Linked DNA regions of Homo sapiens: region 2 is linked to region 1. Evidence: fine-mapped QTL for protein levels in blood plasma. A gene starts in region 1. The other region holds a variant in brackets. All regions are shown on one strand. Distances are from middle to middle.

Evidence for each region. PIP is the posterior inclusion probability: the model's chance that the variant is causal. Protein levels are from the aptamer-based SomaScan assay of Sun 2018.
Region 2: its variant is fine-mapped to the plasma level of the PPIL1 protein (Sun 2018, PIP 0.95).

Annotation. Positions count from the first base shown.
Region 1 is chr6:36,868,014-36,884,236 of GRCh38, reverse strand. It overlaps PPIL1 (peptidylprolyl isomerase like 1), which reads left to right and starts at 9,434. Exons shown (of 4, transcript NM_016059.5): 1 at 9,434-9,520; 2 at 12,365-12,519. The coding sequence starts at 9,465. It also overlaps a transcript of C6orf89 not described here. RefSeq lists enhancers at 9,214-9,443, 16,109-16,223.
Region 2 is chr6:36,887,819-36,901,497 of GRCh38, reverse strand. It overlaps C6orf89 (chromosome 6 open reading frame 89), which reads right to left. Exons shown (of 9, transcript NM_001286635.2): 2 at 6,895-6,994; 3 at 1,865-2,072. The coding sequence starts at 2,053. Among named protein-coding and RNA genes, the nearest start is that of C6orf89, 8.7 kb to the right of the region's middle. The variant G/A (reference allele first, on the strand shown) is at 3,342.

The DNA.
Region 1 (16,223 bases):
CAAGGCTGGAATGCAGCGGCGATCTCAGCTCACTACAACCTCCACCTCCTAGGTTCAAGTGACTCTCCCGCCTCAGCCTATTGAGTAGCTGAGATTACAGGCACCTGCCACCACGCCAGGCTAATTTTCATATTTTTAGTAGAGACAGGGTTTTGCCATGTTGGCCAGGCTGCTCTCAAACTCCTGACCTCAGGGGATCCGCCTACCTCTGCCTCCCAAAGTGCTGAGGTTACGGGTGTCAGCCATCACGCCCGGCCAGAATTGTTTATAATTTACATTTGCTGTATTTCTCCATAGGCCACAGGTGTCAACAGCTGCACAGGTACTTTTCTGTTTAGCCAATTCTATTACTTAGTATAATTTTCAAAGGAGAATTTAAAGTCTGTTGTGTAACGATAGCCTTTAAAGTAGAATTTGCTGTAGAGCCTATTATGAGGGAGACATTTCAAATTATTGCCTCTTTTATTCTAAACCATGGAAAAAGGACCTAACAAATGGATGTCTTTCTAGAAGAGTGAAGGCCTCTTGTCAATGTTCTCTTTAATCCATGATGTGGGTTAAGAGGAGTTTTGACTGATTATGAGGCAATGTATGTACCACTAAAGTTTGTTACCTACATTGGGCCTTCATCTTTTATCTATTGAAATATAAGGTTATTCATGTTTAAGGCTGGCTGCAAAATCCTTCACAAATAAAAGTATACCCTATAAGTGCATATAATAGACCCACTTTTAATTTCTATTGTTCATAGAGGCATAAACAAGGAAAAAATATTCAAAGATAAGAGTCTTGTGATAGTAGAAGTTTTGATCTATGATCTTGGGAAAAGCTATTCTAATCAAGGATGCCATCTTCTGGGGAGAAACTTTTCTGGTTAGTTTTACCTTAAGGGTTCCAATGGATGTACAGTTCCAGGAGTGTGGAGGGACCCTTCTCAGCTGTGAGATTATGAACCCAAGGTTTAAAGCTCCAAAGTTTTGCTGTAGTGTGGATGGCAAGGACAGTCTTTCTCTTTCTCTGGTGTTCTCAGACGATCCAATCTGCAGGTTCTAGATTGTGAAGGGATTGTCCTCAGTGAATCATAAAAAGTTTTCTTTGTCTGGTGAAAATACACTATAATCTACTGTTATAACATCAGCCCTATTGCATGGGAAAGCTTTTATACAACCAGAAAACATGCATTGAAAATGACAATTCAGGCCGGGCGCGGTGGCTCACGCCTGTAATCCCAGCACTTTGGGAGGCCGAGGCGGGTGGATCATGAGGTCAGGAGATCGAGACCATCCTGGCTAACAAGGTGAAACCCCGTCTCTACTAAAAATACAAAAAAAATTAGCCAGGCGCGGTGGCGGGCGCCTGTAGTCCCAGCTACTCGGGAGGCTGAGGCAGGAGAATGGCGTGAACCCGGGAAGCGGAGCTTGCAGTGAGCCGAGATTGCGCCACTGCAGTCCGCAGTCCCGCCTGGGCGACAGAGCGAGACTCCGTCTCAAAAAAAAAAAAAAGAAAAAAGAAAAAAAAAAAAAGAAAATGACAATTGAATGAAATCTCTTTATAAATGTTTAAATGGCCCATCAGGTAGCCAAACGCATCTGAAGCTTTGATCGTCTTTCCAGGAATATGGAACCAAACATTGGATTTAAATTATTTCTGCAATTTATAAGTCACCACATCAATATATTAAATTTGGATTATTTTATCTTTTCCAGAACGTTTAATAACAAAAGCTTTAAGGACTCAAGAAGGACAAGGTGGCCATCCTGGTTCTTCATGAGTCCATGCTTAACACGGGACTTACGTCCTCTTGAATACCAGTTGTTTCTCCAATTTAGGTGCATAGCACTGATAGCTAATGGGTTATCATAGGTAATTTGACTTAGACCATGGAGTTCATTCAAATTGTATATTTAAACAATTTTAGTATTGGCTTATTTAGCATGATAATCTAGAGCTTGATTTTGAAAGGTTTGTTAAATACCAAAGGTTTAAAACATTGGATATTACAAAATAGAATCTTAGGTTACCATAAGTCATTCATTTAGCCAAAATGATAACTTAAAAAATTTTAAAGGAAAAAACAGTATTTTGATAGAAAGGAGACTCAGCTTTCCAAACAAGATCCAATGAGGATAGCATGAGGCCAACTGACTATCTCCTTTCTTTCCTTCCTCAACCATTTTTTTTTGTTGTTTATTTAAAAGGTAAACAAAAACCTTTCATTATCTTTTAATATTAAATAAAAATCCTTTCTAAAAGAGGGAACCAAATTTTATGTTTCCATTAGTGTATTTTTAATGTTAAAGCTAGTTTTTAATAATATTTTAGAAATCTATTCAGTTTTAATTAGTTTGACCATAAGGTAAGATTTTTATAAACCTTTTATAACCCTTTACTATTTTTTTTCTCAGAGCAGAACAATCTTCTAAGAAAACTCTGTTGTGCTTTTATTCCAATGTCCCATTTATGGAAAAAAAAACTGAATAATGCCATTTTAACTTTAGCCAATATGTTCACACATAGAATCCTAATAATTAATTGTTTTGTTTTGTTTTGTTTTGTTTTTTCGAGATGGAGTTTCACTCTTGCTGCCCAAGCTGGAGTGCAATGGTGTGATCTTGGCTTGCTGCAACCTCGGCCTCCCAGGTTCAAGCGATTCTCCTGCCTCAGCCTCCCCAGTAGCTGGGATTACAGGCGTGCAACACCACGCCTGGCTAATTTTTTGTATGTTTAGTAGAAACGGCATTTCACCATGTTAGCCAGGCTGGTCTCGAACTCCTGACCTCAGGTGATCCACCCACCTCAGCCTCCCAAAGTGCTGGGATTACAGGCATGGGCCACCGTGCCTGGCCCCTATAATTAATTTTTATAAACCTTCCACAACTTGTTCAAACCTTTAGCTTTATTTAATTTAAAACAATCCTTTAACCCTCTAACCTAGGCAAAAATTTACATTCCTGTATTTTCTTATAATCTCTTACAAAAAACACATTTCATTCTCCTTACACACCTTGCATGTAAACCTATTTTTTCAGTACTCTCAATTACATATTACAATGTTAACTCTTAGCAACTTTTACTTTTGGTGAAAACCTTGGTAAGTAAGGATTTTAATTATGTACTAGGTGTGGAGCCCAGGACCCAGACAGAAATGCAGATAAAGGTCCGACTCTTTCCAGCATCTAACTACAGGTGTCCCAGGCCTTACCTAGCTATAAAGCAGGCAGGCTGTACAGTTAAGAGTCATGGTGGCATTTTATGAAGCATTTAGGAGGCCTAATCACCTTAAATTGTACAACATGTCTGGCATGAATTCCTTTTCATAAATTTTTTCACAACTTACACAGACTATGTGTGACATGTTTAGACTTTCTGACTTGCCCTAAACATCCCTCTTTTTAAACAACCAGTCATTTTACTTTAGGACAAGAATTTACCATACAACATCCTTTCTTAATGAAATCTATTTTCTTTATAGCCTTTGTATAGCTAGGGGGCATGGCTAATTCCATATATCCCCAGGCCTTATTTAGAATTTAATGTCTCCAAAATAAATTGAACAATTTTCAAAAGTCAAAGCAGTTTATGACCTTGAAGCATATAGCAAAGCTAATATCTGACCTGCATAATTTAGACAAAATGTCTTTATCAATAATATTTAAAGTTGTTTTTATTTCCCAAAGATTACTAAAGTTACATGAACCAAGAGGCATTACAGTTTTTATTTTGCTTTCAAAATATTTAAGTGCTTATTTTTGTTTAAGCCAATTAATTTGAGCTCTTTTATATAAACATTACACACAATACATATATAATTAGACAGACAGGCAGAAGAAGATTACTATAGTAGTTGTAAGATTTTTCTTTTGCCAGTTTTTAAGTTTCTTAATTGGTTATTGGCTTTATGGTGGAGTCCTTGGAGGAACAGGGCCAGGAAAAGGGTTTCTGGTGCCTCCTGTTTTTCCCATGGATTCCAGGCCATTAGAGCCTGAATATTCATTTTTTAATTAACCTGACTTTTAAGCATAGCACTCTTTAATAAAGTCCTTTTAAATTTCTTATTACTGATTTTACCCAGGCCAAATGGCTGATATTTCTGGCTTTTGAACTTTACCAAAGGTAACTTCCTAGGTGCTCGAGGAAGGAAAATTTAAGATAGTCTGTGGAGGAGAAGAGACTAGAGAAGGTTATGCAGATATTAAATCAGAAATGACTTACTTCCTAAGCAGGGAATGGAACTGGAACCGCCAGTGTGAAAGGCCAGTGAGCCACAGCACAGAGCAGTCTACTGCCCTTCCCAGAAGGAGTCTAGAGTAGTTAATTTTGAGCTTGCAGAGGCTTTTAATGACTCAGGATAATTTTTAGAGCTAACTATGGCATAAACCCTAAAATCCCTGTTCCCTAGAAGGTGGAGACCAAGAGAAAGTACTGCCACGTGGTTACGAGGTCAAGTTCCCAAGGACATAAAACAAGATGGAGACCCCATCCAGTTTTTTTTTTGTGTTTCAGGGACCTGCAGGAAAGTTTGTTATTGACCAGCGAGCTTGTGGGGTCCTAAGCCCGTGTTTTATCCTAAGGTACCCCTTGACCCAGAAAAACGAATTCATAGCACAAATACATCAGTTTAAGACTAACCTCAGAATTTTTTTTGCATTAATCAAAACCTTAGAGAAGAGATAAATAAACAGTGATTTTTACCATTCATTCAACCATTTGCACAGAGAGAGAGAAGCCAAAAATCTGACTGGTAAGAAATTCTTACTCTTTTGCTGGCATGCCAGCCTTCTGGGTTCCCTTTCCCTCAGCGGCCCCAGTGACCCAGCTTGCCACACCATCACACTGGGGGCCAAGCCGCATCATAAAGGAAAAATTTTTTGTTGTTGTTCCGGCCAGAGCAAAATACATGTGATAAAACACAGACATTAGCCACTCTGCTTAGCACTCAATATCAAACTGGCAAGGTTTATATTTGCCCTCAGATGGGCCCCGTTATCTTTAATCCAATGTCTGACTAGGGGTTTCAACACGTGATCTCTGGGCAAGCTGGTTGCCCTGAGTAATAGAAAAGATAAAAAAGGGAAAGGAAAGAGAGATCCGAGAGGGAGCTTACCTGTGATCCCCAGCTGCTGTGAGAGATCAATAGACACAAGTGGATCCTGCAGGTACCTTGCATGTTCACTCAGTGCTCCTGGGGGTCGCTAGAAGCTCCACTTTAGATCCCATTCCTGACACCATCTGATAAAAGAAAAACTTTGGCTGAATTAAGTTTGAAGGAGTTTAATTGAGCAATGAATGATTCGCAAATCGGGCAACTCCCAGAATCACAGCAGATTCACAGAGACTCCAGGGGTGACTCGTGATCAGAACAAATTTATAGACAAAAAGGTAAACTAACGTACAGCAATAGGAAGTGAGGTACAGAAACAGCGAGATTGGTTAAAGCTCAGTGTTTGCCTTATTTGAATGCAATTTGAACATTCGGCAGTCTATGAGTTGTTGAAGTATGGCCGCTGGGATTGGCCAACATTCAGCTATTGTTACAGGTATATACTATTAAGTTAAGTTTTCAAATTTGTCTGACTATAAAGCTAGGTTATAGTTCATCCACAAGGACTCAAATATAGAAGTACAAAGCCCTTCTCAGGCCATATTTAGTTTGCTTTAACACTGTGACAGACTGTACTAAGCACTTTCAATTCATGGAGCCACTTCATCAACCCTATGGCATAAATAGCCCCATAACATCCTCATACAAACAAAACTGAAGTTTATGGAGAGGTTAACTTGCTCAAGATTTTACAGATAAGGAATGGAAGGATCAGCATTTGAACCCAGACTCCTTAACCTGCCCTGTGTGTAGCGCCAAATCTCTTAACTGCTTTCTACAAGAAATCTGCAAACAAAATACTACTGGGTTCAGACTAATGCTATAGCTACAGAGGTAGTGTGACAGTGACATAAATGTATGAAACCAATGAAACAGAATAGAGAGACCAAAACCAGAAAACACATATATGGACACTTGATTTATGACAAAGAGGTGAAACAGAGGAGTGAGGAAAAGATAATGCTTTCAATCAATGGTGCTGGGTCAATTGTATATCCATATAGAAAAAAATGAAACTTGGCTCCTACCTCATACCATACACCAAGATAAGTTCTAGATGCATTGCAGATCTATATGATAAAAACAAAACAGAATTATAGAGCTGCAATATTGAGATGTCCAATAATGTCTGTCCAACACTGACATGTTCTGTAAGAGAGAAAATGCATATGTTGGACTACATTAAAATTAGAAACTTTCCAGTGTTATATTCTGTCCAGGATATATAAGGAACTTTACAAATAAGAAAACAGCCAAATAGAAAAATAGGTAGAAGATTTGAACACAAAAAGGTATCACAAAGAGGATATCTAAATGGCACACATATGGAAAAAGAATTCAACTTCATTAGTCATTAGTTGTTAGTGAAATTACTACTGAGATATTGTTATAGAGGCTTCAGGATTCCTTAAATGAAAAAGACTAGCAATACTAAGAGTTGGCTTGGAAGCAGAGCAACAGCAATTCTCACAGGCTGCTGGTGCATACATAAATTGCTACAGCCACTGGCCAGGCGTGGTGGCTCATGCCTGTAATCCCAGCACTTTGGGAGGCCAAGGTGGGCAGATCACAAGGTCAAGAGATTGAGACCATCCTGGCCAACATGGTGAAACCCTGTCTCTATTAAAAATACAAAAATTAGCTGGGTGTGGTGGCATGCGCCTGTAGTCCCAGCTACTCGGGAGGCTGAGGCAGGAGAATCGCTTGAACCCACGAGGTGGAGGTTACAGTGAGCTGAGATTGTGCCACTGCACTCCAGCCTGGCGACAGAGTGAGATTGTGTCTCAAAAAAAAACAAAAAATTGCTACAGCCACTTTGCAACAGTCTAGTGTTAACTACTAAATTATACATGTTACCTATGACACAGCAATTCTGCTTCTAGGTATATACTCCCAAAAATTCATGCACAAGTGCACTAAGATACATACACAAAATATCCATCGCAGCACCATTATACATTGTGGTATGTTTGTACAACAGAATACTACACAGCAAGGAAAAATGAAAAATGGCCACTACATACAACATGAATACATCTCACAAACATATTGTTAAGGAAAGGAAGCCAGGCACAAAAAAATACGTACTTTATAACTCCATTTATATAAAATTCAAAAACAGGGAAAACCAATCTATGATATTAGAAGGCAGAAAGTGGTCTACCCTTTGGGAGGAAGGAATGGGTAATGATTAGTAGGGGGGCTTCTGAGGAATTGGAGACATTTTATTTCTTGATTTGATTTGACCCCTCATGGCTTCTGGCTAACTCCAATTTATTTTCTGGATCTCAACCCAGGCTGTCACTCCAGGGGAAATTTTTGACTGTCCAAACCTACTCTGGAGTAACCAGAGCTCAGGGAAAACTGTGTTTCTTCTTCTTCTTCTTCTTCTTCTTTTTTTTTTTTTTTTTGAGATGGAGTTTCACTTTTGTTGTGCAGGGTGGAGTGCAAAGGCAAAATCTCTGCTCACTGCAGCCTCCACCTTCCGTGTTCAAGTGATTCTCCTGCCTCAGCCTCCGAAGTAGCAGGGATTACAGGCATGCACCACTATGCCCAGCTTATTTTGTATTTTTAGTAGAGACAGGGTTTCACCATGTTGGTCAGGTTGGTCTTGAACTCCTGACCTCAGATGATCTGCCCGCCTCGGCCTCCGAAAGTGCCAGATTACAGGTGTCAGCCACTGCACCCAACCTACTGTGTGCTTCTTATTACAGTCCTCATTCCACGCTCCTACAGCTACGTATTTAGTTGCCCATCTCTCCTAGAATGTGAGTTTCTTTAGGGCAGGGCACTGTGTGTGTGAGACTCATCTCTGTCTCCTCAGTGCCAAGTGACTGGTAGGAGCTGCAGTAAAAGATTTAGGAAGAAAGTGATCATGATCTTGGGGGTGGCTTTTCAATATTCAGACATTGGAGCCTGGGAATGGCACATGACTCCCGAGATACACAGTAAAGAACTACATAAAGTCCAGAGAAAGGCAACTTAACAACAGACTAAACAGACCAAGGATTAAGACTTTTTCATCCAGCTCAAGGGCCACAAGGTGGGCATGAACTTGAAACTGCAGGAGGTGTAAAAATTATACTTTAGCATTTATCAGTTTAAAATGTAGTGTTCCGTTCATTATTCATTCAGCAAAGCTGAGCACCCTGTGCTCTGTACTGTGCAAGAAGAGCACAAAGATGAAGGAGGCCCAGCTCCTCTCTCAAGGAGCTGTCTAGTTTATCTTTACAACCTTGTACATCCTTATTCCTTGTTGACAATTAGGGACATTACAGTTGAACTGTCGTTAAGAGCACAAGTGCACCAGCTGTAGTACTTTAAGCAAGTTATTTAATCTGTAAGGCTCAGCTTCCTCAAAGTAAAATGGGAATAGTAATATCTACCTTGTGGGATTTTGAAGATTAAGCGTGAAAATACGCAATAAAATGCTTAGCTTGATGCCTGGCACATGGTAAACATTCAACCATCATTATTAAGTGGTGTGCAAAGCATTTACAGCGTTAAGTTTAGGTACTCTATTTCATTTTTGTCCTCCCTCCAAACATTATAGCTCCTCTAATTTGCTTCTGTTCCTCGCGCCCTGCGCAAACCCTCCTAACAACTTTCAGGTACCATCTATCCCAGCCAATGTTAAGCCTTGTTCTTGCTCTGATCCGTTTGTCCTGTTTTCTCCTGTCTCTTCCTTTCTTTATCTCCTATTTTCTTCCTGCCCCTTCCCTCTCTTTTCTCCTCAGACTCCTCGTCTTTGGATTCTGCAGGCTCAGATTTGCTTTATGACTATGGAAAAACAAGTATTAACTGCCGAGTCTATTTTCAGATCTGAAAAATGGTAATAATACTATCTACTTATAGAATTGTTTTGTGGAGTAGATGAGATAAGAAAGTGCAAGCACTGTGTACATCGTACAGCGCCTTACAAAAATTCTTTACTGGCATCTCTAAACTACCCTCTTTCATTCTCTGCCTCCCCTTCCCGTCCCTGCCCAATTGTGAGACTAAGAAATTCTTCGAATTTAATATTAGGACATAACTCCAACCAGAGCGCAGCTTTTCTGGTTGTTCCCGCCTTCCATGCCTAAACGAACCAATCAGATCGCCCAGAGTGGCGCGGTATCGCCACTTGGAGACCACCGCGAATGAAGTTTGCATTTTCCTCTGTTCTTGAGCCCAGCTTCTTCTCGTCTCCCACCCCAGCTTCCCGGCATTGGAAGAAGGGACCGTCCTCTTCCTTGTCTTGGCCACCCAAATCCTGGTATCGAAAGGGTTGAACGGACCGGAAGTGTGCAGCAGCGACGGGTCCCCAGCTAATCGACGCCGGAAGTAGCAATTACTAGACAAGCATTCCGCCGCCGGCTTCGCTATGGCGGCAATTCCCCCAGATTCCTGGCAGCCACCCAACGTTTACTTGGAGACCAGGTGAGGGGGTTCGGGCGTCTGGGGCTGGCAGAGGAGACGCGGAGCCCGGGCCTCACCACGGGTCTGCGTTCCTGGCGCGTTCCTCCGGGAGGCCGGCCTCCACGTGGAGGGGCGTGGAGCAGCGGCCGAGACGGCCCCCAGAGGGTTGAGAGGGGACCGCCATCGCCCGCGTCCAAGCTCCGCGGGGTCTTGTGCTGAGGTCTCAGCAATAGCTGCCTGATTGTCCTCCTTCCCCCAGTCCGCTCATTCATTCATTCATTCATTCAACAAACGTGTAATGAGTCCGCAAGCCAGGCATATGGAATATGAGTTCTGAGGATACAGAGGTAGATAAAACACAGACAGCCCTGCCTTTAGGAGCTTACGGTATAATGAAAGAGACAGACATGTAAACATTACGTGATAAGTAATACAGTTGTAGAAACAAATTCCAGTAAAATACAGGAAGAAGCACATTTTCCCCACTATCAAAGAGTGATGTGGTAACCAACCTGCTGGCGCCATGCCCCGCTGTATGTCATCTCATTTAGTTTAATCTTAGCAACTCAAATCATGAAGGTATTATTTAACTTTCTCCCTTTCAATATTAGCAGGAGGAAACGCCGGAATTTACAGCTTAAAGCCTTGACCAAAGCCACACAGCTAGTAACTGGAAGAACCTCGTTTGGAGCCTGGTGTGCTCGTCTCACCTTGCTAGATCCTTTAGCTCTATTCATTCCATTGCCTCTTTGGAAAAAGCTCAAAGTGATCTTTACAAAGTAGGACAAGGAAGGGATCCTGCTCAAAAAACCTTTAATAACGTCTTGCTGCTATAACAGTATAAAGTAAAAACGTATTAATCCTGACATTCAAGGTGATTTTTTTCATCTGGCCCTTGTCTACCTGCCATTCTCCCCTCAACAGCCAGGGACCAGCCAAGGTCCTCTGCCTTTCTGTTCTTGCCCATTGCTGCTTTCAGCTAAAGCAGAGTTCTGTCAGTCCTCTCTCTATTTGCTCATGCTGTTCATTTCATGCTCCCTGGCCATCTTCCCCACCTTATATGGCAAAATTCTACATCTTCAGGCTCCAACCTGTAATTTCTGAATTCTCCTGTTGGTATTTTTTAAAGTTACAAAATAAATTGTTAAATCCAAGCAATGTAGACATACAGAGTAAGAAGTGAAAGTCACCTCCTTCCTGAAAACACCATCAACAGTTTGTTGGATGATTGTCCAGACTTTTTTCTATGTACATATAAACCTCTCTCATGTTTTTTTAACAAAAAAATGGGATCATATGATCATACTGTATGTATGTTTTTTCTGTAACTTGGTTTTCTTTCACTCAGTAATTCAGGTAGCTGCCCATAGTATGGATAGTTGATATTTTAGGCATTTCCTATTTCAAGGACATTTAAGTTGCTTCCTTTTTTTTTGGCTATGACAAATACTGAGATGAACATCCTTGCACATATTGTATCCTTAGGCACTTTTGTATATTTTCCTAGAGGATACTTGGAAGTTGAAATTACTGAGGTATGCACATTTCAGAATTGTATACGTACTTCCTGATTGTCTTTCCAAAAGGCTACTTTCTGTATTTTGAAAATATCCTCCAGAATGTAAGCTTCATGAGGGAAAGAGTACCACACACAGAGTAACTGTCAATCTGTGTTGAATGGGAGCAGTGTGAAAGATGAATTGGATGAATTTCAGGCAGAAAGGCTGTTAGCTATTTTCTAGCACACTCCTCATATACTTATAGAGTGTTTACACTGTGCAAGGCACTGGGTATCCAGACTATACAGAGTTGACTCAATTCTCACATCTGGCCAGGTGCCATAGCTCACATCTGTAATCCAGCACTTTGGGAGGCCAAGGCAGGTAGATTGCTTGAGCCCAGGAGTTCAAGACAAGCCCGGGCAACATGGTGAAACCCCATCTCTACAAAAAAATACAACAAATTAGCTGAGCTTGGTGATGCATGCCTGTAGTCCCAGCTACTCAGGAGGCTGAGGTGAGAGGATCACTTGAGCCCGGGAGGTGGAGGTTGCGATAAGCTGAGATTGTGCCACTGCACTGTAACCTGGGTGACAGAGGAGACCCTTTCTCAAAAAAAAAAAAATTGTCACATCCTTGGAGCTTAAAGTCTAGGTATGTGCTGGAGTAGAGGGGAAGGCACTCGTCCTTTCTCTTGCCTCTTCCTTATCTTTTAGTAGTACTGGTGAGGAAAAAGCACTCATCCTATTGGGTAGGTGCAAAGATTCAAAGTTACCAGGTTTTGCCTTTGTTATACTCCCTCCCAAACAAACACAAACTGTACCTTTTATTGAAATTTTTTGAATAGGTAATGTATTTACATGGATCAAAAATACAAAAGTTTTTAAAAGGTATTCATTAAACATCTTCCTATTTTCCATCTACCCAGTCCCTACCCCCACCCAGAAACTTCTAAATAAATATGAACTCCTGATATTTTAATGTCTCTTTTTTTAAAAAATTAAAAATTAAGTGTAAGAATTTTTTTCCTAATTTAGGGGTTGGTTATATTGGTTTCAGATAATCAGATATAGCTATATATATATACATATGTATATATGTATAGTATTAGAATTTTGAGTTCTCCATGCTTGTTATTTTGCTGAAAAGAAGTACCCAGAACACCTGCGTGTTTTACTCAAAAAAGATAATGGGTGTTTATGTTACTTGCATTGTGGTGTTTTCCTTTGCTGAGCATGAAATCCAGTGGTTATCACAATTTCATGACTTACAAGCTTGAAAATCAAGAGTCCTGGAGCAGTTCCATAATACTCCTGTCTGCCCTGACCTTTTTGTTTACTGGAGCTGTTGTCCTCTCCCTCTGCAGCATGGGAATCATTGTGCTGGAGCTGTACTGGAAGCATGCTCCAAAGACCTGTAAGAACTTTGCTGAGTTGGCTCGTCGAGGTTACTACAATGGCACAAAATTCCACAGAATTATCAAAGACTTCATGATCCAAGGAGGTGACCCAACAGGGACAGGTACAGTTAAGCCAACATTAGTTTATGTTTTCTTTTTTTTTTCTCCTTTTCGTCTTTTTTTCTAAAGCCAGCATTAGTTTCTGAAGTCTCTGTCGTAAATAGGTGATAAGGCAGCCAGAGCTCTCTTTTCCACTTACTAAGGTCTGTGTTGGTTGATTCTGGTGACAACGCCTGCCTTCCTCAAACACACATGTGTGGAATTGACCAGAAACCAACCTTTACTCCTAGGCTTGGTAGAGTTTTTCATAACTTACATGTACTGCTCACTAAGAACAAATAATATTTGTCTGAATTATAGTGATGCAAGTAGTCTGATCAATAAGAAGGAAAGACTTTATAATATTTTGAGAATAATAAAATCCTGGGTTCTTTTATCGATTCATTCATTTAACAAATACTGAGTACCTGTTTTGTGTCAGATACTTTTTTAAGCTCTAGGGAGATACCTATAAACAAAGAGACAGAATTATTGCTCTCAATAAAGCAGGAAAAGGGTGTGGGGATGGAATTTTAGTAGAAAAGTCAGGGAACTCCTCTCTGACATTATTGGAGAAGAGATCTGAATGAAGTAAGAAAGTGAACCTTGCAACTGTGGGGAGAACATTTTGGATGGAGGGAAGAGCAAACACAGAGGCCCTGAGGCAGGAACCTGTGCTGGAAATCATAAGATATGATACCTTATAGGGCATGGTAGAGACTGGGTTTTATTCTGAGTAAGATGTGATGTGAGTCATTGGAGAGTTTTGAGCAAAGGAAAGACATGATCTGATCTATGCTTTAAAAGGATCACTCTAGGCTGGGCACGGTGGCTCACGCCTGTAATCCCAGCACTTTGGGAGCCCGAGGCAGTTGGATCATTTGAGGTCAGGAGTTCAAGACCAGCCTGACCAACATGGTGAAACGCTCTGTCTACTAAAATACAAAAATTAGCCGGGCGGGTTGGTGGGCACCTGTAATCTCAGGTTCTTAGTCGGGAGGCTGAGGCAGAAGAATTGCTTGAACCCAGGAGATGGAGGTTGCAGTGAGCCAAGATCGCACCACTGCAGTCCAGCCTGGGTAACAGATTGAGACTCCCTCTCAAATAAATAAATAAATAAAAGGATCACTCTAGCTGCTGTTTAGAGAATAGATGTAGGGGCAAGATGTAAACACTATGTAAATAGTTGTTGTACTGTATTGTTTGGGGAGTAATGACAAGAAAAATAGTTCTATACATGTTCAGTACAGATGCTTCCCCCCAAGATGTTTTCAGTCGCGGTTAGTTGAACCCATGAATGTAGAACCCACATGTAGGGAGGGCCGACTATGCTCATGAGTAAGTAGTTGGATAGGAATATGGGGTTCAGGGAAAGACCTGGTATGGAGGTATTAATTTGGGAGTTACTGGCATTTAGATGGGGTTTATTAGTGAACTGGTGGAACCCTTACTCATTTCAAGGGCCCTTGCTTCTCAGTCTGCTTCTTCTCTGCTAATTTCTGCTCGTTTGCCTTTAAACAAGTTTGGTTTTCTCTATAGCAGAGTCTTTTCTCAGTCTTGTTCTTTTTTGTCATTCTTAATCGTCTCATGATTTATCATCTATGGTCAGAAGCATTCAGGTTTTTGGGTTTTTTTTTTTTTAATGTATATGGATGCATTTCAAAATACAGAATATATAAGAAAGCAGAGAAAAGGGGAAAAATCATTCATAAGCATAGCTCCTAAAGATTTCTAACCATCATTAACTAATCCCTAAATATCCCATCTTTCAGAAAGGAACAGTGTTAACTTTTGGTGCCCATCATGTCTGGTTTAAGGGATGACAGGATAAATGGAAGTAGTTTCAAAAAAATAGGATATATAAGCTATTGTTTTTAAAACAGAACATATTACATTTAATTTCATATATATAGAACAGAATATTTGACTTCCTACAGTGAAAGATGAGGCAATTAGTACTTAAATTTCTACCCATTCTTATTTTTCCCCGACCTTAATTTTTGTTGTTAGTTTTATTATTATCTGTTCTGCACTCATCATTCCTTCAGCTACAGTGTGGGTCCTACGTTTCAGTGTATTTAGTGTTCACAACTTGCTTCGCTTTTACCTTCGCAAGTGCTGGAGGGCAGGATTTCTTGTCTAGTGGTTTTTTAGTGTTTTTTTTTCAGAATGCTCAAGAATCACAATTGTCCAGTGGTTTTTTGTTACAAGAGCTGGAATGTGTTGTATTTTTAAGTTCATTCATGTTTCAGAATTTCTGCCTGTTACTTTTATACTTGAAAAGAGATAGCATGTTGGCATGCTCAGCCCCCTCACTGTGTGATGCACTGTGCCACTTTGGGACTTCACAGAGTCCCCACCAGCAAGAAGGCTCTCACCAAATGTGGCCACTTGACCTTGGACTTCTCAGCCTCCACAACTGTAAGAGATAAATTACTTTTTTAAAATAAATTTTTTAGGCCAGGCATGGTGGCTCACACCTGTAAGCCTAGCACTTTGGAGGCTGAGGCGGGAGGGTCACTTGAGTTCAGGAGTTCAAGACCAGCCTGGGCGACATAGTGAGACCCCGTCTCTACAAAAAATAAAAAATTAGCTGGGCATGGTCGCATATGCCTGTAATCCCAGCTACTGGGAGGCTGAGGTAGGAGGATCACTTGAACCTGGGAGGTTGAGACTGCAGTGAGCCATGATTGTGCCCACTGCACTCCAGCCTGAGCGACACAGTGAGACACTATCTCTAAATAAATAAATTAAAATAAAATAAAAATATTTAAAAGGAAGAAAAAAAGACCATAACTGGGTATAGCATTCTGAGATCTTTTTAGACATTTCTGATCAATTGCCTTCTGGTTTGGTTTTTTGTTGTTGTTTGTTTTTGTTGTTGTTGTTGTTGTTTTTGGAGACAGGATCTTGCTCTGTCACCTAGGCCCAGGCTCGAGTACAGTGATACAATCATGGCTCACTGCAATCTCCATCCCCTGGGCTCAAGCATTTCTCCTACCTCAGCCTCCCGAGTAGCTGAGACTACAGGCATTCACCAGCATGCCTCACTAATTTTTAAATTTTTTATAGAGTTGAGGTCTCACTGTTGCTGAGGCCGGTCTCAAACTCCTGGGCCTAAGTGATCCTCCTGCCTCGGCCTTCCAAAATGTTGGGATTACAGGCATGAGCCATCATGCCTGGCTGCCTTCTCATTTTTGAATATGGTTTTGGAGAATACTGAGGCCAGATTTACTCCTTCCTTTACATCAGGGTTAATTTTTTGATTTCTATTTCTGAATATTTTCTCTGTTATACTTACTGGATTTTCTATTTCAGGAAATATAGTTATTTGTTTCATCACCTTTGCCTTCCATATCTATCATATTTCTTTTGATTGTGTGATAGGATTTTTTTTTCTTTTTTCCCTGCATTCACTAAAATAATCTCAGACCTTTACTCTGTGCCTTACTCAATTTTCAGTCATTTTTATTCTGTTCTTTACTGCTCTAATTTATCTACTAGCTCATTACTGATGCCATTTGAATCTAAATTTGTTTCCTTCACTCTGCAATCTTTTCATCTTATTCTGTGGTGTATTATCTTGTCTTTGAGCTTTTGTTATATTATATTTTTACTTCTCTTGAATCATCCATAGCTTGAGATAGCCATGGAGAAGCCACTTTCTCCCAGGCTGAGTTCCTGGGTTTTCTTTTCCTTTCTCCCCTCCTCCTTTCTGTCCTTCTGT
Region 2 (13,679 bases), 19 kb before region 1:
CCGGATGTGGTGATGGGCGCCTGTAGTCTCAGCTACTCAGGAGGCTGAGGCAGGAGAATGGTGTGAACCTGGGAGATGGAGCTTGCAGTGAGCCAAGATCGCACCACTGCACTCTAGCCTGGGCAACAGAGTGAGACTGCATCTCAAAAAAAAAAAAAAAAAAAAAAAAAAAAAAATAATAATAATAATAATAATAATAATAATAATACACAAAGGGGCCGGGCGCAGTGGCTCACACCTGTAATTCCAGCACTTTGGGAGGCCAAGGCGGGTGTATCACCTTAGGTCAAGAGTTCGAGACCAGCTTGGCCAACATGGTGAAACCCCACCTCTACCAAAAATACAAGTATTAGGCCAGGCACAGTGGCTCATGCCTGTAATCCCAGCACTTTGGGAGGCTGAGGTGAGTGGATCACCTGAGGTCAGGAGTTCGAGACCAGCTGACCAACATAGTGAAACTCCCATCTCTACTAAAAATACAAAATTAGCCGGGCATGGTTGCGCATGCCTGTAATCCCAGCTACTTGGGAGGCTGAGGCAGGAGAATTGCTTGAACCTGGGAGGCGGAGGTTGCACTGAGCCAAGATCACACCATTGCACTCCAGCCTGGGCAACAAGAGTGAAACTCTGTCTCAAAAAATAAATAAATACATACATAAAGGCTGGCTGCAGTGGCTCACACCTGTAACCCCAGCACTTTGGGAGACTGAGGTGGGCAGTCTCGAACTCAGTCTGACAGTGATTGACTGGACTCAAGTCACTTGAGCCCAGGAGTTCGAGACCAGCCTGGACAACACGGAAAAACCCCCATCTCTACAAAAAATAGAAAAATTAGCCAGGTGTGGTGGCACATGCCTGTGGTCCTAGGTACTTGGGAGGCTGAGATGGGAGGATCACCTGAGTCTGGGAGTTCGAGGCTGCAGTGAGCCATGATGGCACCACTGCACTCCAGCCTGGGCAACACAGTGTGACCTTGACTAGAAAAATAAAAAATCTGTTCAGGTGCGATGACTTAGGCCTGTAATCCCAGCACTTTGGGAAGCCGAGGAGGGCAGATCACCTGAGGTCAGGAGTTCAGGACCAGCCTGACCAACATGGAGAAACCCTGTCTCTACTAAAAATACAAAAATTAGCCAGGTGTGGTGGCACATGGCTGTAATCCCAGCTACTTGGGAGGCTGAGGCAGGAGAATCGTTTGAACCTGGGAGGCGGAGGTTGCAGTGAGCTGAGATCACGCCACTGCACTCCAGCCTGGGCAACAGAGTGTGACTCCATCTCAAAAAAAAAACAACAAAAAAAAACAAAACACAAGGCCAGGCGTGGTGGCTCACGCCTATAATCCAAGCACTTTGGGAGGCTGAGGTGGGCAGATCACCTGAGGTCAGGAGTTCAAGACCAGCCTGACCAACATGGAGAAAACCTGTCTCTACTAAAAATACAAAATTAGCTGGGTGTGGTGGCGCACGCCTGTAATCCCAGCTACCTGGGAGGCTGAGGCAGGAGAATCACTTGAACCCAGGAGGCAGAGGTTGCGGTGAGCCGAGATTGCGCCATTGCACTCCAGCCTAGGCAACAAGAGTGAGACTCCGTCTCAAAACACACACACACAACAAACAAACAAATAATAAAAAATTAAATAATAATATTACACAAATATAATTTAACTGTAAATATGCAGCTTTCATCTAGGACCTTTAACAACACAGTCAAATTTCCTAGTAACACATGGTAACAAGAGCAAAGGCCAATTTATTCACGGAAAAACCAATGCTCAGTGGTGGGATTAGTCAACAATAGCATTTGTGAAGAATGTTGAACAGTTTGTGTTCTGTTGAAGCAATTACCAACTCAGGAAACATTTTACCTTATACACAACTATAAGGAGAGGATACTGCGGGGGGGGTCTCTGAGGTTCATTCTTTTCCAGCAGCTGTCTGATAAATTTTTCAATTGCCTTCTCTGACATGCCACACTGATGGCCGGTCTGTCTCACCAAATCAACAGTCTCTGAAAGTTTGTCATAAATGCTGATCTCGTTGGCAGCAAGATCCATGTCTTCCAATATAAAATCCCTGAGAGAGACGGAGAGAAAATAAATGTAAAAAGAAAGGTGGTTTCTTTAGGTACTTCCTCTTCAAAGCTACTTGACCATCTGTAGAGAAGGACCAGTTTTGTGCTTTCCTCAATCCTCTACAGACCAATACTTTCATGAAACACAATGAATACACAGAGACAATGTCAAATTGCCATACAAGTTTTAAAATATTCGTTAACTGTGGGCCAGGAACAGTTTACAGACCTGCACTAGTTCCCAAACTAGTGCAAACTGAGGAGCACTGGTCTAGAGCACAATATATCCTAATGGGACTCTGAAGCACTAATGACATCCAAAAAAGATTTCTGACACCAATGATGGGAGATCTGCTACTGGAGATTCCTTAAAATAAAAAAAAAATGGATTATGCACAGTGTTGTTTAACGCTGTTGTTGAACATTTGTGTTCAACACAAGAGGAAGAACTGATCACTGAAGATTACTGAAGGTGATTTACTGAGAGCAACAGGCTGATAAGCTTTGTTCTTGGCAGAGCAAAGATTTCAGACAACACAAAAACCATGGCATGTGGCTTGCAGTCCTCACACTTTTCTTTCTTCTTCTTTTTTTTAATTTCTTCTGGAGCAACCAGAGTCCTCATGCTTTTCTACAAATACAATTTTAGAAAATAAAGGGCATTTTATTTGTATTTTATATACTTAAAATACCTAAGATTTTTAACTAATTTAAAAATTCAATTTGTGTTCCTATAGTTATTTTAAAGACAGATTGTTTCATCATGCCCAGAGAACAAAAGGTAAAAACTAATGGGGCAAAGTAGAGTTCTCTCTGTATCATTTGTAAAATGAAATTAAATAGTTCCAAGGCTGGACGCAATAGCTCGTGCCTGTAATCCCAGCACTTCGGGAGGCTGAGGCAGGCGGATCACCTGAGGTCCGGCGTTTAAGACCAGCCTGACCAACACGGAGAAACCCCGCCTCTACTAAAAATACTAAATTAGCCTGGCATGGTGGCGGGTGCCTGTAATCCCAGCTACTCGGGCGGCTGAGGCAGGAGAATCTCTTGAACTCGGGAGGCAGAGGTTGTGGTGAGCCGAGATCACGCCATTGCACTCCAGCCTGGGCAACAAGAGCGAAACTCCATCTCAAAAAAAAAAAAAGAAAAGAAAAGAAAAGAAAAACAAATTTTAAAAATCAGCTTGGCCTGGTGGCACACACCTGTAGTCCCAGCTACCTGGGAAGCTGAGGTGGGAGGACTGCTTGAGCCCAGGAGTTTGAGGCTGCAGT[G/A]AGCTATGATCATACCACTGCACTCCAGCCTGGGAGACAGAACGAGATCCCATCTCTAGAGAAATAAAATAAGATAAAATAATTAAATGGCTATTTAAAAAGGTGTTTAAGTTACAGAACAATAATATTTTTCTTCATTTACAGGAGGAAGAAGAGTGCTTCTTCGGGTTTGTGCTCTCTTCTACTGGGCTTTATTTATTTATATATTTATTTTCAATACAGAGGGTCCTTTTATTTTGCATACTTCATTCCTACAGTACTTCTAGCCCCAAAAAGTACTGACATAGTACGTGTATTCTCTCAGTAAGGAGATGCTGCCACCTGTAGGGTGGAGGACATAGTCATGTTGTTACAACACAACCCAGCGCACGCCAGCACACCTCCTCTTCCAGCAGTGTGCCTCCCAATCACTCCTGTTTGGTCCTCTTTACGACTATTAAGTGTTTAGTTCATTAGGTCTTAACCTGGCTTGCACATTAGAATCACCTAGAGAGCGTTTCATAAATGCTCATACCTGGGCATCAACTCAGAGCAATTAAATCAGAATCAGAAGACTTCTAATGGTGGATTAAAAGGCATGCAATCTAGACTTCCAGGAACTGGGGGAATGAGAGAAGAGCCCACCACACTATACCCCCCACATTCAGATAAAAAGACAGTACAAACTACAGTTGAGACTTGAACAACATGGGTTTGAACTATGTGGATACACTTAAAAGCTGATTTTTTTCTACCAACCCAGGATTGAAAATACAGTATTTTCAGGGTGCAAAAACTGCATATACATATACAGAGGGATGATTTTTTGTATAAACAGGTTCTGAAGAATCAACTGTGAAACTTGAATATGCAAGGATTTGGGTGTATATGGAGATTCTGGAACGAATACCCTACATATACCAAGGGACAGCTATATAATTTTTAATGTATTATTTTCAATACATGATGCTAGGACCACTGGATATCCACAAATGAGAAAATGAAGTTGGACCTTTCTTTCTTTTCTTTTTTTTTTTTTTTTTTTTTTGAGACAGAGTCTTGCTCTGGTTGCCCAGGCTGGAGTGCAGTGGCGCGATCTTGGCTCACTGCCACTTCCGCCTCCCGAGTTCAAGCGATTCTCCTGCCTCAGCCTCCCAAGTAGCGGGATTACAGGTACCCACCACCACGCCCAGCAAATTTTTTTGGATTTTTAGTAGAGACGGGGTTTCACCATGTTGGCCAGGCTGGTCTCGAACTCCTGACCTCAGGCAATTCGCCTGCCTCAGCCTCCCAAAGTGCTGGGATTACAGGTGTGAGCCACCATGCCTGTCCCTTTCTTTATACTATACACAAAAATTAACTCAAAATGGATCAAATACCTAAATTTATAAGCTAAAATGATAAAACTTCGAAGAAAACACAGAGAGGGAGGCTTCATGATTCTGGGATTCGGCAATGGTTTCTTAGATATGATACCAAAAGAACAAGTAGCAAAAGAAAAAATAAATTGGACTTCATCAAAATTAAAAACTTTTTGTAGAAGACAAGAGGAGGGGAAAAACCTCAAAAATTCTGTGTCTCAATACCATCAAGAAAGTAAAATGACAAGCCACAGAATGGGAGAAAATTTTTGCAAATTATATATCTGATAAGGGGGTGGTCTATATAGAATACATCAAGAATTATTACAAATCAGTAATAAAAAGACAACCAAATAAAAAAATAGACAAAGGATTTGAATAGCCATTTCTCCAGAAAAGATATACAAATGGACTGGGTGCAGTGGCTCACGTCTGTAATCCCAGCGCTTTGGAAGGCCAAGGTGGCAGATCACTTGAGGTCAGGAGTTCGAGATCAGCCTGGTCAACATGGTGAAACCCTGTCTCTACTAAAAATACAAAAATTAGCCGGGTGTGGTGGCAGGCACCTGTAATCCCAGCTATCTGGGAGGCTGAGGCAGAAGAATCACTTGAATCTGGGAGGCAGAGGTTGCAATGAGCCAAGATTACACCACTGCACTCCAGCCTGGGTGACAGAGTGAGACTCCATCTCAAAAAAAGATATACAAAGGACCAATAAACACACAAAAAGATACTCAACATTATTAACCATCAGAGAAATGCAGATCAAAATCACAGTGAGATATCATTTCACATCCACTGGGATAGCTACAATCAAGAAGTCAGACAAAAAGTGTTGGTAAGGACATGGAGGAATTGAAACATAAAATGGTACAGCCACTATGGAAAACAGCCTGGCAGTTCCGCAAAGAGTTAAACACAGTTACCATATGACCCAGCAATTCTACTTCTAGGTATGTGCCTAAGACAAATGAAAACATATGTCCACACAAAAACTTGTGCACAAATGTGAACAGCAACATTATTCATAACAGCCCCCAAATGGAAGTAATCCAAATGTCCATGAACTGATGAAAGGATAATCACAATGTGGTAGAGCCATATAATGCAAAATCACTGGACGATAAAAAGGAATGCAGTACTGATACATGATACAATATGGATGAACCTTGAAAACATTATGCTAGGTGAAAGAAGACAGTCACGAAAAACTACAGATTATATAGCTGCATTTAGATGAGAAGTCAGGAATAGACACATCTTTTTTTTCTTAATACCTTTTTAACAAACCTGCAAGGAATAGGCAAATCTATAGAGATATAAAGTAGATTTCCAGATGGGAAGTGACTTATCTGAGACCACCCAGTCGGTTGTCACCTGAGCCTCATTTCGACCCCACATTCTTTTCACTAAGCCATTTTTGATTAGCAGCCAGGAGGATGGATTACAAAGCATTAAGAGCCATACTAACAATAACACCAAAAAAACCCCCAGAAATTAAGATGTAGCATTTCCAATTAAAAATAATTCAGGAGTAGATGATCTCTGGAAAATGAGATCACAGCTGGTTTTTATTTTCTTTGTGACTTTCATATTTCCCAAACTTTTCCTGTATCAATTTTGTAATCACAAAATTCTCACAGTCACTTCTAAGGAACATCACTGGGCACAAAATGAGTCAGAGATGTACAGCAATGCATGACCATGGCACCATAGGGAAGAAGCAAGGCATGATTTGCCATGCCAATGACTTTTTGGTTCTCTATAGAGTTGTATTCAAATATTACAGCTGGAAAAATGAAACAGCATTGAACCTGGAGACAAGCTTTGCCAATTGCTAGTGAGATGATTTCGGTTAAATTACTTGGTCTACTTCTGCATCCAAAAAATAAGAGGATTGGACTACAAATTTTAGAGTCTCGCTCTAAAATTCTAAGAATCTATGAACACTTCAGGAAGGAGAAAAATTCAATTCATTAGAAACTGAAGACTCATGTTCAATTGCACTCCTATTCCTGTTCCCACCCTATATGCCAGGTGCCTTGCTAAACACTCTGGAAATATTATCTCAGTGAATCACCACTGTGATCCCATAAGGTAGCTGTGATCGATCCCATTTCATACATGTTCAAGGCTCAGAAAGGTTTCATAACTTGCCAGGATGTGAACCCAAGTGTCCTGACTTCAGGGTTGTTGCATGCTGCCTCCCTTACCAAGTTATTTTCCTATTCTGAGCTGGCAGTTCGGAAACCACGTGTCCCTTGATCACAACTGAGCGGCTGAGAACTGGAAAATGATTGACTACAATGATTCCTGCAAATAGAGTAAAGGGATAACTTATTACAACATTTTTCACATCTTGGTTTTGTGATCAGTGATTCTGAGATGCCATTTTCCTGTTTAAACTAACAAAGACATTCTATGAAAGCAAGTAGGAATAATATTCATTTAAATATGTTACAATTCATTATCTAACAATACCCAGTCAAAACCCATTAAAACTCAGTAGAGGACCAGAATGGAAAGGATCCAGAAAGGACTGCTAGAAACAAATTCCAGTGAAAAACTAGTGTGGATGCTGGGAGGTGGGGTCACAAGCAAGTATCCCTGAGGCAGAAGAGAACATCACACACAGAAGAGAACACGGTGTGCCGGTAGGAGAATCCTGAAGGGGACAAAAGTACAGGTGAGGAAAACAGGATTAATCATCATTATTTTTGATGGCTGTTTTGCAACCTTTGTAAGCCTCCTCAAGTCTTTTTTTTTTCCTTTTTTTCCTTTTTTTTTTTTTTTGAGACAGAGTCTCGCTGTGTTGCCCAGGCTGGAGCACAGTGGTGCAATCTTGGCTCACTGAAAGCTCCGCCTCCCGGGTTCAAGCGATTCTCATGCCTCAGCCTCCTGAGCAGCTGGAATTACAGGCTGGGATTAAAGGATGATATTTTTTGTTGTTTAATTACTATCATATCCAACCAAATGCCAACAGTGTCCCTCTAGCAAGACAATAAAAAATGGCACATGCCACCATACCCAGCTAATTTTTGTATTTTTAGTAGAGACAGGGTTTCACCATATTGGCTAGGCTGGTCTCAAACTCCTGGCCTAAAGTGATCCACTCACCTTGGACTCCCAAGTGCTGGGATTACAGGCATGAACCACCGCGCCTGGCCTGTAAGCCTTTTTGATACACATAAAAATCTTATTAAACTCCCAGTTTGTATCACACACAAAAAAATACGTTTCTTTTCTTGTTGGGTAATTCAAGTTAAAATGATATTAAAACACTGAATATATTTTTGCAAGCCATGCATCCTTCTTCCGAGAGATTATGACACATTTCTCAAGTTATCAGAAAGGTAGTTAATAGCAACTTAGTGACGTTTCTAAGAATACCTGTGGATTGTGATAAGCCCTCTTTTTGGCTTTGGTTATATCAGTCGTCCTAAACTGGAAAAGATTCTGCCCCCAGGGATGCCTGGAGACATTTTTTATTGTCTTGCTAGAGGGACACTATTGGGATTTGGTTGGATACGATGGTAATTAAACAAGAACAAAAAAACTCATCCCTTAAAAAAAAAAAAATCAAGGCCGGGCGCGGTGGCTCACGCCTGTAATCCCAGCACTTTGGGAGGCCGAGGCGGGCAGATCACGAGGTCAGGAGATCAAGACCATCCTGGCTAACACAGTGAAACCCCGTCTCTACTAAAAATACAAAAAATTAGCCGGGCGCGGTGGCGGAGGCCTGTAATCCCAGCTACTTGGGAGGCTGAGGCAGGAGAATGGCGTGACCCCAGGAGACAGAGCTTGCAGTGAGCAGAGATTGCCCCACTGCACTCCAGACTGGGCGACAGAGCGAGACTCCGTCTCAAAAAAAAAAAAAAATTCAAACATAAGGTCATTACTATGCATCAAGCATGAGAGGATTGAGTGAAATCGGCTGAGGCTTGATGGCAATCCACTTACCTGCAGAAAGTAGTTCCAACTCTGGCCAAAGTGAGCTTTGCTACAGGGGGAAGTTCTGAAGAGTTAGCCTGATTCTAACAGTGGCATAGACCTGCAAGGGCACAGGCAGGATCACTAGTGGAGTTATTAGGATCAAAGTATCATGCACCACCTCGGATATGCTAAGTTGCCAGAACTGTTAGGAGTGGAGCTCAGGTGTGTACGCTTTCAAGCCTCTTCTCTGCTGATTAAAGGCACACACCCCCAATTAAGAGACACTACTTTACAACAATAGTTCTCAGGGTAATTCTGCTCCAAAGGGGACATTTGGCAATGTCTGAAGACATTTTTGATTATCAAAACTGGACAGGAGTTGGGCACAGCAGCACATGCCTATAGTTCCAGCTACTCGGGAGGCTGAGGCAGGAGGATCACTTGAGGCCAGAAGTTAGAGGCTCAGTGAGTTACGATCACGCCTGTGAACAGCAACTGCACTCCCGGCTGGGCAACACAGGGAGGCTCCAGCTCTTTTAAAAAAATTAAAAATCAACAAACTGGAGGGGTACTATTAGCATCTGGTGGGTAAAGACTAAACATCCTGCAATGCACAGGAGAACCTCCTCCTACCCCTCCTCAAAACGAGGTCAAGAAACCTTGCTTTCAAGAGAGGCCTGTCGGAGGTAAGCCAGGGAGTTGTTTCACTTCTGGAGTACTTCAGAAATAGGAGGAGACAACTGAGAGCTCTGATGAGATGTTCTCCACAATTCCTTCTGGGTCTCTGCCTATGAAGAAACAGGGTAGAGGCATATCTGACAGAAAAACTCTGATAGAACTTACCAATACAAATGTTTCTTTAAAGCAGAAAAGAAGTTAAGAGAAATGTAAACTTCTCTTTTGCCCTGTTTAACAGAGAACTAATTCCTCTATAGAGATAAGTAAGTCCTGAACACTGATATGCCATTACCCTGGACGTTCTGTTTTCTGAAGAGCTATGCCAGCGAGGTAACTCTAGGATAGAAAACTGATTCATCTAGTTAAAGCACAAAAGGGGAAACAGTACAGTTCAAAAGAAAGTTTCAAAAGTCCATCAAGATACATCCCAATCTTCAACACTAGGAGCTATATCCAGAGTAAATTAAATTTTCTTTTTTCTCTACTTGGCTCTTTAATATTACACTACCCATGAAGTATGGTATCCATTCTTTAGTGTTATGAATATATTCCATTCTATTTTATCCAGTGATCCCATTAATTAAATATATGTTCTAGTAAAGAAAAAGTGCTCCTTCAACCATTGTGGAAGACAGTGTGGTGATTCCTCAAGGATCTAGAACTAGAAATACCATTTGACCCAGCCATCCCATTACTGGGTATATACCCAAAGGATTATAAATCATGCTGCTATAAAGACACATGCACACATATGTTTATTGTGGCACTATTCACAAATAGCAAAGACTTGGAACCAACCCAAATGTCCATCAATGATAGACTGGATTAAGAAAATGTGGCACATATACACCATGGAATACTATGCAGCCACAAAAAAGGATGAGTTCATGTCCTTTATAGGGACATGGATGAAGCTGGAAACCATCATTTTGAGCAAACTATCGCAAGGACAGAAAACCAAACACCGTATGTTCTCACTCATAGGTGGGAATTGAATAATGAGAACACTTGGACACAGGAAGGGCAACATCACACACTGGGGCCTGTAGTGGGGTAGGGGAGTGGGGAGGGATAGCATTAGGAGATATACCTAATGTAAATGACGAGTTAATAGGTGCAGCACACCAACATGGCACACATATACATATGTAACAAACCTACACGTTGTGCACATGTACCCTAAAACTTAAAGTATAATAATAATAAAAAGAAAAAGTGCTTCTTAGATTATAATAAGAACCACTACAAAGAAACAAACATCAATTAAAAGGAAAAATAACTGATAAAACATTGAAATGATTAATACGATTTAAAAGAGTAATAACTTAAAACTACAATAAATGCTTAAAATTTACAATCAAGGTACAGGCAGGGCACAGTGGCTCACACTTGTAATCCCAAAACTTTGGGAGGTTGAGGCGGGTGGATCACTTGGGGCCAGGAGCTGGAGATCAGCCTGGCCAACATAACATAGCAAAACCCTGTCTCTACTAAAAATACAAAAATTAGCCAGGCATGGTGACGCATGCCTATAATCCCAGCTACTCGGGAGGCTGAGGCATGAGAATCACTTGAACCTGGGAGGTGGAGGTTGCAGTGAGCAGAGATCACATCATGGCACCCCAGCCTGAGCAACAGACTGAGACTCTGTGTCAAAAGAATAAAATTTTTTTTTTAAATGTAGTATATACATACAATGGAATATTATTCAGCCTTAAAAAAGAAAGAAATCCTGCTATTTGTAACAATACGGATGGACCTGGAGGACATTATGCTAAGTGAAATAAGCCAGACACAGAAAGATAAATACTACATGATACCACTTGTGCGATTAATCTAAAATAGCTAAACTCATAGAAGCAAAGAACAGAATGGTGGTTGCAGGAGGCTGCAGGCAGGGGGAAACAGGGAGGTACTGGGCAAAGAATACAAAGTTTCAGTTATACAAGATGAATAACTCCTAGAGACCTACTATACAGCACAGTGCCCAGAGTTAACAATACTGTATTGTATATTTAAAAATATGCTAAGAAGGTAGGTCTTATGTTAAGTGTTCTTATTGCTAATAGTAATAATAAGTAAGAAGGCAGGAGGAAACTTGAAGGTGATGGATAGGTTGATGGCATGGATCATGGTGATGGTTTCACAAGGGCATACTTATGTCCAAATTCATCAAGCTGTACACATTAAATGTGTAAAGCTTTTTGTACAAAAATAGTACAATGAACACCTGGATATCCTTCATTTAGATTTACCAGTTGTTTACATTTGGCTATATTTTCTTTCTGTTTTTACCAGAACTACTTGAAAGTTATTTGCAACACATTATAAAATCATTTCTAAATATTTCAACATGCATCTCCTAAGAATAACGACGTTATTCTACACACAACCATTGGCATTATTGCCATACCCATTAAAATGAGTAATCTCTTAATATTACCTAATATTCAGTCTATAGTCAAGTTTCCTTAACTATCAAATTTTTTTAAAAAGATCATATAGCTATTTAAAAATCCAGGATCCAACCAATGACCACACATTGAATTTGGCTGCCATGCCTCTCTTTAATCTACTTAACTTCAGAACAAGTCCCCAGTGTGTGGTTTTTCTTTTTTTTTTTGTTTTTGTTTTTTGGTCTTTTAGGACATTGACATACTTGAAGAAGTCTTCACATTTTTAAGCTTACCTCTACTTGCTTCCATCCTCACCCTTTCCAGTTTCTACTATCAGAAAAATGCCATAATAGTTCCTTTCTAAGTTTCTGGTACTCTCTCCCTCCCTCCCTTCAGAGGAAAGCTCCTTTGGGGGTTGGGGGGAGAAAGTAACACACTTTCTTGTTTCTCAGGTTTCCATTCATTTATTAACCTGTTGAAATCATATTTCTGCCTCCTCACTCCACCGACATTGCTTTCACTGAGGCCACAAATGGCTTTCTAAACGCCAAGTTCGAAGGACGTTTTTTTCAGTTATTACCTTATCTGACCTCTCTGCAGCAGCTGCTGTTGCTACCCCATTATCTATCTCCCTCAAGTGTACTCAAACCTTAACATAATTCTCTCGTTCTCTGCTGGTATCCACCAGTTATCCTTGACCTTCTTATTCCCTCCAACACTTTGACCACCAGCTATTGGTGATTCCCAAATCTCTTCTCCAGTCTACAACTCTCTCTAGGGTTCAAGACCCATTTATCTACCTGCCTACCAGACACGGTGATCCAAGTTTCCCATAGCTCCCTGTATGTAATGTGTCTATAACCCAACTTACTGTTTTCCCCTTCAACTCATTCCTCCCACTGCACCTCTTTTCTTAATGGAAACACTAATCCTCCAAATTTAAAAACTATTCTCCTCCTACCTCACTCCCACCAATGAAACTATCACTAAGTCCTCTTGATTCAGCCTCCTATATAATTCTCACATTCATCCCTTCCTCTCTACATTAACAGCACAGTTAAGGTCTTCAACATCTCTCCTATGGACCATCACAAAGATGTAGTTAATCTCTATACTTCCAGTTCTCCTCTTCCCCAATCCATTCTCTACCTTGTCCAGTTTTTTATTTTTATTTTCTGAGACAGGGTCTCACTCTTCGCTCAGGCTGGAGTGCAGTGACATGATCTCAGCTCACTGCAACCTCTGTCTCCTGGCTTCAAGAGATTCTCGTGCCTCAGCCTCTGGAGTAGCTGGGAGTACAGGCACGCGCCACCACACTCAGCTAATTTTTGTATTTTTCTGGTAAAAAATGGGTTTCACCATGTTGGCCAGGCTGGTCTTGAACTCCTGACCTCAAGTGATCCACCCACCTTAGCCTCCCAAAGTGCTAGGATTACAAGCGTGAGCCGCTGCACTCGGCCACTTATTTTTTTGAAACACAAATTGGCTCATGCTAAGCACCTTCCAAGACTCCCCATCCTCTGCAGGAGCAGTTTAGCATGGTGACTAAGAACACAGATACTGGAGTTGGAAAAAGCTGGATGCAAATTCTAGATTTTACCACTTACTGTGTGGCCATGAGACACTACTCATCCTCTCTAAGCCTCAGTTTTCATGTATAAAATGGGGATAATTATTTCTACCCCACAATGTTTTATTTCAGAGAATTATAAAATGATGTAACACATTTGTTCCAATAGCCAGACAAATTAAATACCTAATAACAATCATTTTAAGATAAAGTCCTAAGTCAAGCATGGTGGTTCATGCCTGTAATCCCAACACTGGGAGGCTGAGGTGGGAGGACTGCTTGAGCCCAGGACTTCCAAGACCAGCCTGGGTAACATAGCAAGACCCTGTATCTACAAAAAAAATAAAAATAAAAATTGGCCGAGTGTGGTGGTGCCTGCCTGTAGTCCCAGCTACTTGGGAAGCAGAGGTGAGGGGTAGCT